Linked DNA regions of Homo sapiens: region 1 is linked to region 2. The links come from fine-mapping of genetic effects on gene expression. A gene starts in region 2. The other region holds a variant in brackets. All regions are shown on one strand. Distances are between the middles of the regions.

Evidence for each region. PIP is the estimated chance that this variant, and not a neighbour inherited with it, causes the effect.
Region 1: its variant is fine-mapped to the expression of TCL6 in whole blood (TOPMed, PIP 0.91).

The regions. Positions count from the first base shown.
Region 1 is chr14:95,666,055-95,668,967 of GRCh38, forward strand. It overlaps LOC124903372, which reads left to right. Exons shown (of 2, transcript XM_047432042.1): 2 at 2,072-2,913. The coding sequence ends at 2,443. The region is part of intron 4 of TCL6 (T cell leukemia/lymphoma 6); the gene reads left to right. Among named protein-coding and RNA genes, the nearest start is that of TCL6, 15 kb to the left of the region's middle. RefSeq lists enhancers at 1-13, 660-1,306. The variant G/T (reference allele first, on the strand shown) is at 1,399.
Region 2 is chr14:95,650,763-95,653,675 of GRCh38, forward strand. It overlaps TCL6 (T cell leukemia/lymphoma 6), which reads left to right and starts at 1,335. Exons shown (of 8, transcript NR_028288.2): 1 at 1,335-1,464; 2 at 1,615-1,727.

The DNA of each region.
Region 1 (2,913 bases), 15 kb after region 2:
TGCTGGGATTACAGGCGTGAGCCACTGCGCCCGGCCAACAAAGCATATTTTTTTCCTCTGAGGTCTTTACCCTATAACTGCAAGTGGTTTCATGACACTGCACATGGGTTCTTATCTGGGGTTGGTAGATTCAACTCAATTCCACAGGTTTACTGGGTGTTGCCTCCCATGCTTGGAGCCAGGAGGATGCAGGGAAATGGGGCTGCCACCATACCCGCTCTTCTTATGATCCCATCACATCATTGCACCCTTTGGGGCCTGGCACCATGCTCTGGCACTTTGCCTCCATCATCTCCTTTAACCTCTGAGCTCTGTCAGGAAGGCATTACTACTATCCCTGGAATACAGACAGGAAAACTGAGTTGGATTGAGGCTCAGAGAGGTTAAGTCACTTACCCAAGGTCACAAAGCTAGAGAGTGGCAGGCCAGCATCCAAGGCCAGCAACACGAGCTCCCTCTGATCCAAATGGTGACTCTATGTTTGATCAGTGCTCTGAGAACTCTCCAAAGATCTTTATCAACTGTCATCTCTTCATTGCCCAGGCCCAGTCAGGGAGCCACTTGGCTGCGGTCCCGCTGAGATTTAGGGGCAGGACCCCTGATGTGAGGTGGAATGCTTGGTCACGCTGTTCAAGCCTCCACCAGTCACTCCTGACTGGTTATGGACACTCAATGTGCCCCGTCCTGTGTGCAATGCAGTGTGGGAAGGGGATCAAGGACCTTGGCTAATCCCAGGCATTTCCCCAGAATGTCCCAGGTGTGGACCCCTTGGGAGGTGCTGGGAAGCAGGCTGGTGTCCCACAGGCCTTGGTTCCATCCCAGCTGTGCTGTGCTAAGCTGAAACTCTTTGGGCAGCTTGTTTCACCTCATGAGACTTCTTTTTCTGAACTGTTAAATGGGATGATTCGACCTCTGCTTGGCTTTTGGTGACGATTAAACGAGATATTAGCTGTAAAGCATTTCATCCCGGGTCTGGTATAGAAGAAGCACTTGATAAATGAAAGCTCTGTTGAGTATGATGATCCGTCACCCCAGGCATCAGTGGGATCTCACAGCAGGAACAATGCCTAACTCCTAACTGATGCCCAGTAAACATCGGGTGGATGCAATGTCCAACAAGACAGATATTCATGTTCAGTTTTACAGAAAAGGAGACAGAGGCCAGAAAAGGAAGAAAGTGCCCAGGTCAGCCGGCTAGTAAGAGGCAGAGTTGAAATTTGAACCGGGTTCTGGCTGGCTGCAGCTCCACTGCTCCACTACTGCACTGTCTGAGAGCCAAAAGGCACCTTGTAGTCAGGCAGGCAGGGAGCTGGCTTCTTGCTGTCCTGCTGGATCCTGCCCTAGTGTGGCCCTCCCTGGAACCAGGGGTGGGGCTGGAGGGCAGGGCACTGAGAGAGA[G/T]CTCCTGGGAACTGTACCATCTGCACAAAGGGCACCTGCTGGGCACTCTGCTGAAAGCTGTCTGCAAACACCACTTCCTGCCTGCCTCCCTGGGGGCTCTAAGCTCAGGAGGGGGTGAGGGCCCATGTCTGCACGTGGTGAGGCCCCTGCTGGGTATTGTACCACACCTTCATTGTGCTCAGGGTGGCCAGTGGAGGCCCTTCCCAGACTCGAGCTCTGGTCACAAGCCCAACCCCCTCCTTGCTCCTGTCTGGGCTCACCTGGAATCTCCTGCCTCACTCTGTGGCCAGAGGCACCTTTGGAAGCCCAGGTCACCCCTACTACTCATGCCCCTCATTTGGAAATTTTCATAATCTACCTCTTGTTAATGATTCCATCCCATCTATAATGCTTTTCTATTTTTCTGAATTTTTCCCCGATAGGCTATAACTGCTGCAAAGATAGAGAATTGCAATGATTAATATGCATTTATGTATTTCCAAAAAGTTACCAGAATATCAAACTCATGATTTTGTCTATAGTTTGGTTAGATTCAAGCTATTTTTATATCATAAAACAACTTAAAATTTTTTTATTTTTAATTTTTGTGGGTGCAGAGTGATGTATTTATGGGGTACCCGAGATGTTAGAATGAAGCTATTAAATGTGAGTGTGAACGTTCACCTTTTTGCAGATCACGGGAATTACAAGTGACATCCTGAAGTATGATCACAAATGTTTCAAATTAAGCCTTCCTGCTAAGTTTCCAGAGGTGTGTGGCTCGGACGAAGTGTTTCCAGACCCTGATCTACTGCATGTCCTGCCTGTTGCTGGTTCTTTGCAGCAGTCCATTGACCAATGCTGTCTACAGCTTGAGAGCCTCTGCAGGCCAGGGCTGCTCTGTGCACATCCTACGTTACTATTCAAACTGCACAGCAGCATGAAAAACAGGCCCTTCTTTTCTCTCATTTACACATATGTGAAGAAGACACAGCAAGTGAGAAAACGTGACCGAAAGCCACGCGGACAGGTGGCCGCAGGGCCAAACCCAACTTCCGTGATGTGATCTGGCTACAGTTTGGAGCCCACATATTTCAATAGTTATCCCCAGGCCTGGCACGTCAAAGAGGCTCCAGAAATGTTTGCTGAGTGAGTGATGAATCAGCAATTTCTGATTTTCTCCTAAACTTAGAGAATAAGTGGCTTGTCTGCAGTCACCCAGGGCGTCCCTGACAGAGGTACAAGTAAAGCCCAGATCTCTGCATCTCTGGTTCAAGGCCTTTTGTACTACACACCGCTGTCTCTTTGTCATCATTAAAAGCAAGGCTCAAGGGACATGTTTTCTAGCCTTAGTTCCCCATCTACAAAATGGGCCTCATGGAATGGAATGTCTCCACTTCACTCCAGCATCAACAAGTGGGGAATTCTGATGGATTCAATTCGACTTCTTTCCATGGGCGTGTTCTAAGCAGCCTCTTTGTTCCAGAAGCTGCCCTCAGCCAGAGTTGGATAAGCCAATCCTCACTCCCCAGCCTC
Region 2 (2,913 bases):
CACATCTGAACATCAGAAGGGACAGACTCCAGACACGCCACCTTAAGAGCTGTAACACTCACCGCGAGGGTCCACGGCTTCATTCTTGAAGTCAGTGAGACCAAGAACCCACCAATTCCGGACACAGTGCTGAGAATCATGCCTTGAAATCTAGCAGCTCTGTTAAAAACTGAGCAAGGTGTACTTCGGGGTTGTGTTGAGAAGGTTGGTGTTCAGCTAAATCAGGAGGGAAGGCCAAGGAAAATCAGGCTTGGCACCTGTCAACAGGTGGGACCCAATAGCCAAGCAAATGGTCCTGCAAACTGTACTACCCAACGTTCACAGCAAGGATTCCAACTTCTCACCAGGGCATGGAAAATTTGCCTTCATGTCAACCACCACCTTAGCCCTTGACTACCCAACGGACTCTTCCCAAGTCAACAGCCACTTCCTCCCTGGGGCTTAACAGGCATTCCTTGAAGCCTGCCCCGGGCAGTTAGTCCTTCCCTTTTGTGTGAACTCTCGGCTGTTTTCGTTGTCTGCACACAGAGCAGTGGTCTAGGGAGCGAAGGGTTTTGGAATGGACCTTTTCCTTTCTTAGCTTGCTGTAGGGATTGTGCTTCAGCTAAGTAAAGTGGAAAAACAGAAGTACAAAAGCAACAGCCCCAGATCTAAGGGCACCGTAGCTCTGGAATCTGGATTTTATTCCAGATTCAACCCTCAGCAGGGAGTTGAAGTGGTCAGCCCTGTGCTTTACAAGGCTGATTGGGCAGCACCCATAGTAGAATTGTCAATATAAAGTAATTGAAAGGATCAGAATCCAGGGTTTTCGTTGTTTTTAAGTTTTTAAGTTTTAAAAACAAAGTTGTTTTTGTTCGTTTTTAAGTTTACTTCTCTTTAATCGGTCTCACTTTATTGACCAGGCTGGTTTCGAACTCCTGGGCTTAAGTGATTTCTCCTGTCTCAGCTTCTCAAAGTGCTGGGATTACAGGCGTGAGCCGCTGCACCCAGCCCAGAATCCAGTTTTAAAGAGTTTATTCAAGCCAAAAGCTGGGAATGGCCATCTGAGAAACACAGACTCTAGGAAAATGGGGCCAGGGCCCTGAAGTTAAAAGTTAAAGTCTTGCTTACATAGGCAGAAAGCAAAGACATTTAGTAACCTTGTAGAACATTTTCTTGTATAACTTTTCTTGTTTTAACTTTCTTGTTTAACATTTTCTATGCAAGGCTGGTTTATGAGTTACAACCTATAATTAATTATAGGTTGTTCCCCTGCCTCCACCTTGTTTTCTTTTCTCTACAGCTTGTTTTCATTTCCTTTCCAATTTAAGAATGTGTTTAACATTCTATCCCAGACAATGTGATGGTCATGAAGTCTCTGTCAGAGAGGAAAGAGGGAGTTAATCTATAATGAAGATCAACAGTGAAGAGGAAAGGGGTCTTCCCTGGAACGCTTCAGTCATATACGACATTTTACACAACAATGTAAGTAAGGAAAAAGGCTAATCTATAATCAGAGAAACAAAGGTTGCAGCTGCCTGTTTACATGACTCAGGTCCCATGATCAAATTCCCTTAAGGCTCGAAATATTTTAAAGTTCCAACAGCTTAGATTTTGAATTGCTTATTTTCACAGAATGGACCTGTGTAAGGAGGTATGTGTGGGAGAAGATTCCAGAAGGTCTTGAGACACTCCAGATGAAGGTTGGTGTGGGGCTGTGCTGCTGGAGCACCAGAGAGTGAAAAGAGGCAAGCGATTTATAGTCTCATCAAATATCGACAAGTTTGGGTTTTCCTTTAGAGTTGGGCAGGGCCTGGCTGGACTTCTTTCTCCACCAGTCTCCGGGAGGCTCAAACAAGTTCTGATTTTCAGGTTCTGAAAAAGCTCTCAGGGAAAAAGCAGCTTCCATTCTGTTTTTTTTCCCTTTCTGCATTCTACTTCCCTTTTATTTTTGGCCTGGTAATTTCTGTCTTATCAGCTTTTAGATGTCCTTGAGATTTTTCTTTTCTTTCATTTTTTTTTTTTTGAGACAGGGTGTAAACCAAAAACTCTTTTATTCTTTTTTTTTTTCTTTTGAGACAGGATGTAAACCAAAAATAAAATTCTAAGCCCCGCCCTCCCTGCAACCATCTGAATGGACTTCCTCCTGGGCCAGGGTACTTTTAACCTGAAAGACTGGTTCAGGCCATGATGGAAAGTAGAGGTCAGACAGGACTCATTATACCTCTCTGATGAGAAGCATTTACAATCTATTTTCTCTGAAGCCTGCTACCCGGAGGCTTCATCTGCATGGTAAAACTTTGGTCTCCACAACCTCCTATCACAGCACAGACATTTTCTTTCTATTGAGCCCAGATCTTTAGATAAACTTAACCAATTGTCAACCAGTCAATTTTAAATCTACCTGTAACCTGGGAGCCCCCAACCTCCACCCAACAATTCAAGTTGTCCCACCTTTCTGGACAGAACCAATGTATTTCTTAAATGTATTTGATTGACATCTCATGTCTCCCTAAAATGTATAAAACCAAGCTGCACCCCGACCACCTTGGGCATAGTTCTCAGGATCTCCTGAGGGCTGTGTTACAGGCCATGGTCACTCATATTTGGCTCAGAATAAATCTCTTCAAATATTTTACAGAGCTTGACTGTTTTTATTTGTTAATGATCTCACTCTATCGTCCAGGCTGGAGTGCAGTGGTGCAATCATGGATTACTGCAGCCTCTACCTCCCTGGGCTCACATGATCCTCCCTTCTCAGCCTCCCAAGTAGCTGAGACTACACACATGCGCCACCATGCCTGGTTAATTTTAAAACTTTTTGTATAGATGGAGGTCTTACTGTGTTGCCCAGGCTGGTCTCAAACTTCTGGCCTCAAGTGATCCTACCACCACAGCCTCCCAAATTGGTGGGATTACAGGGATACGATTTTT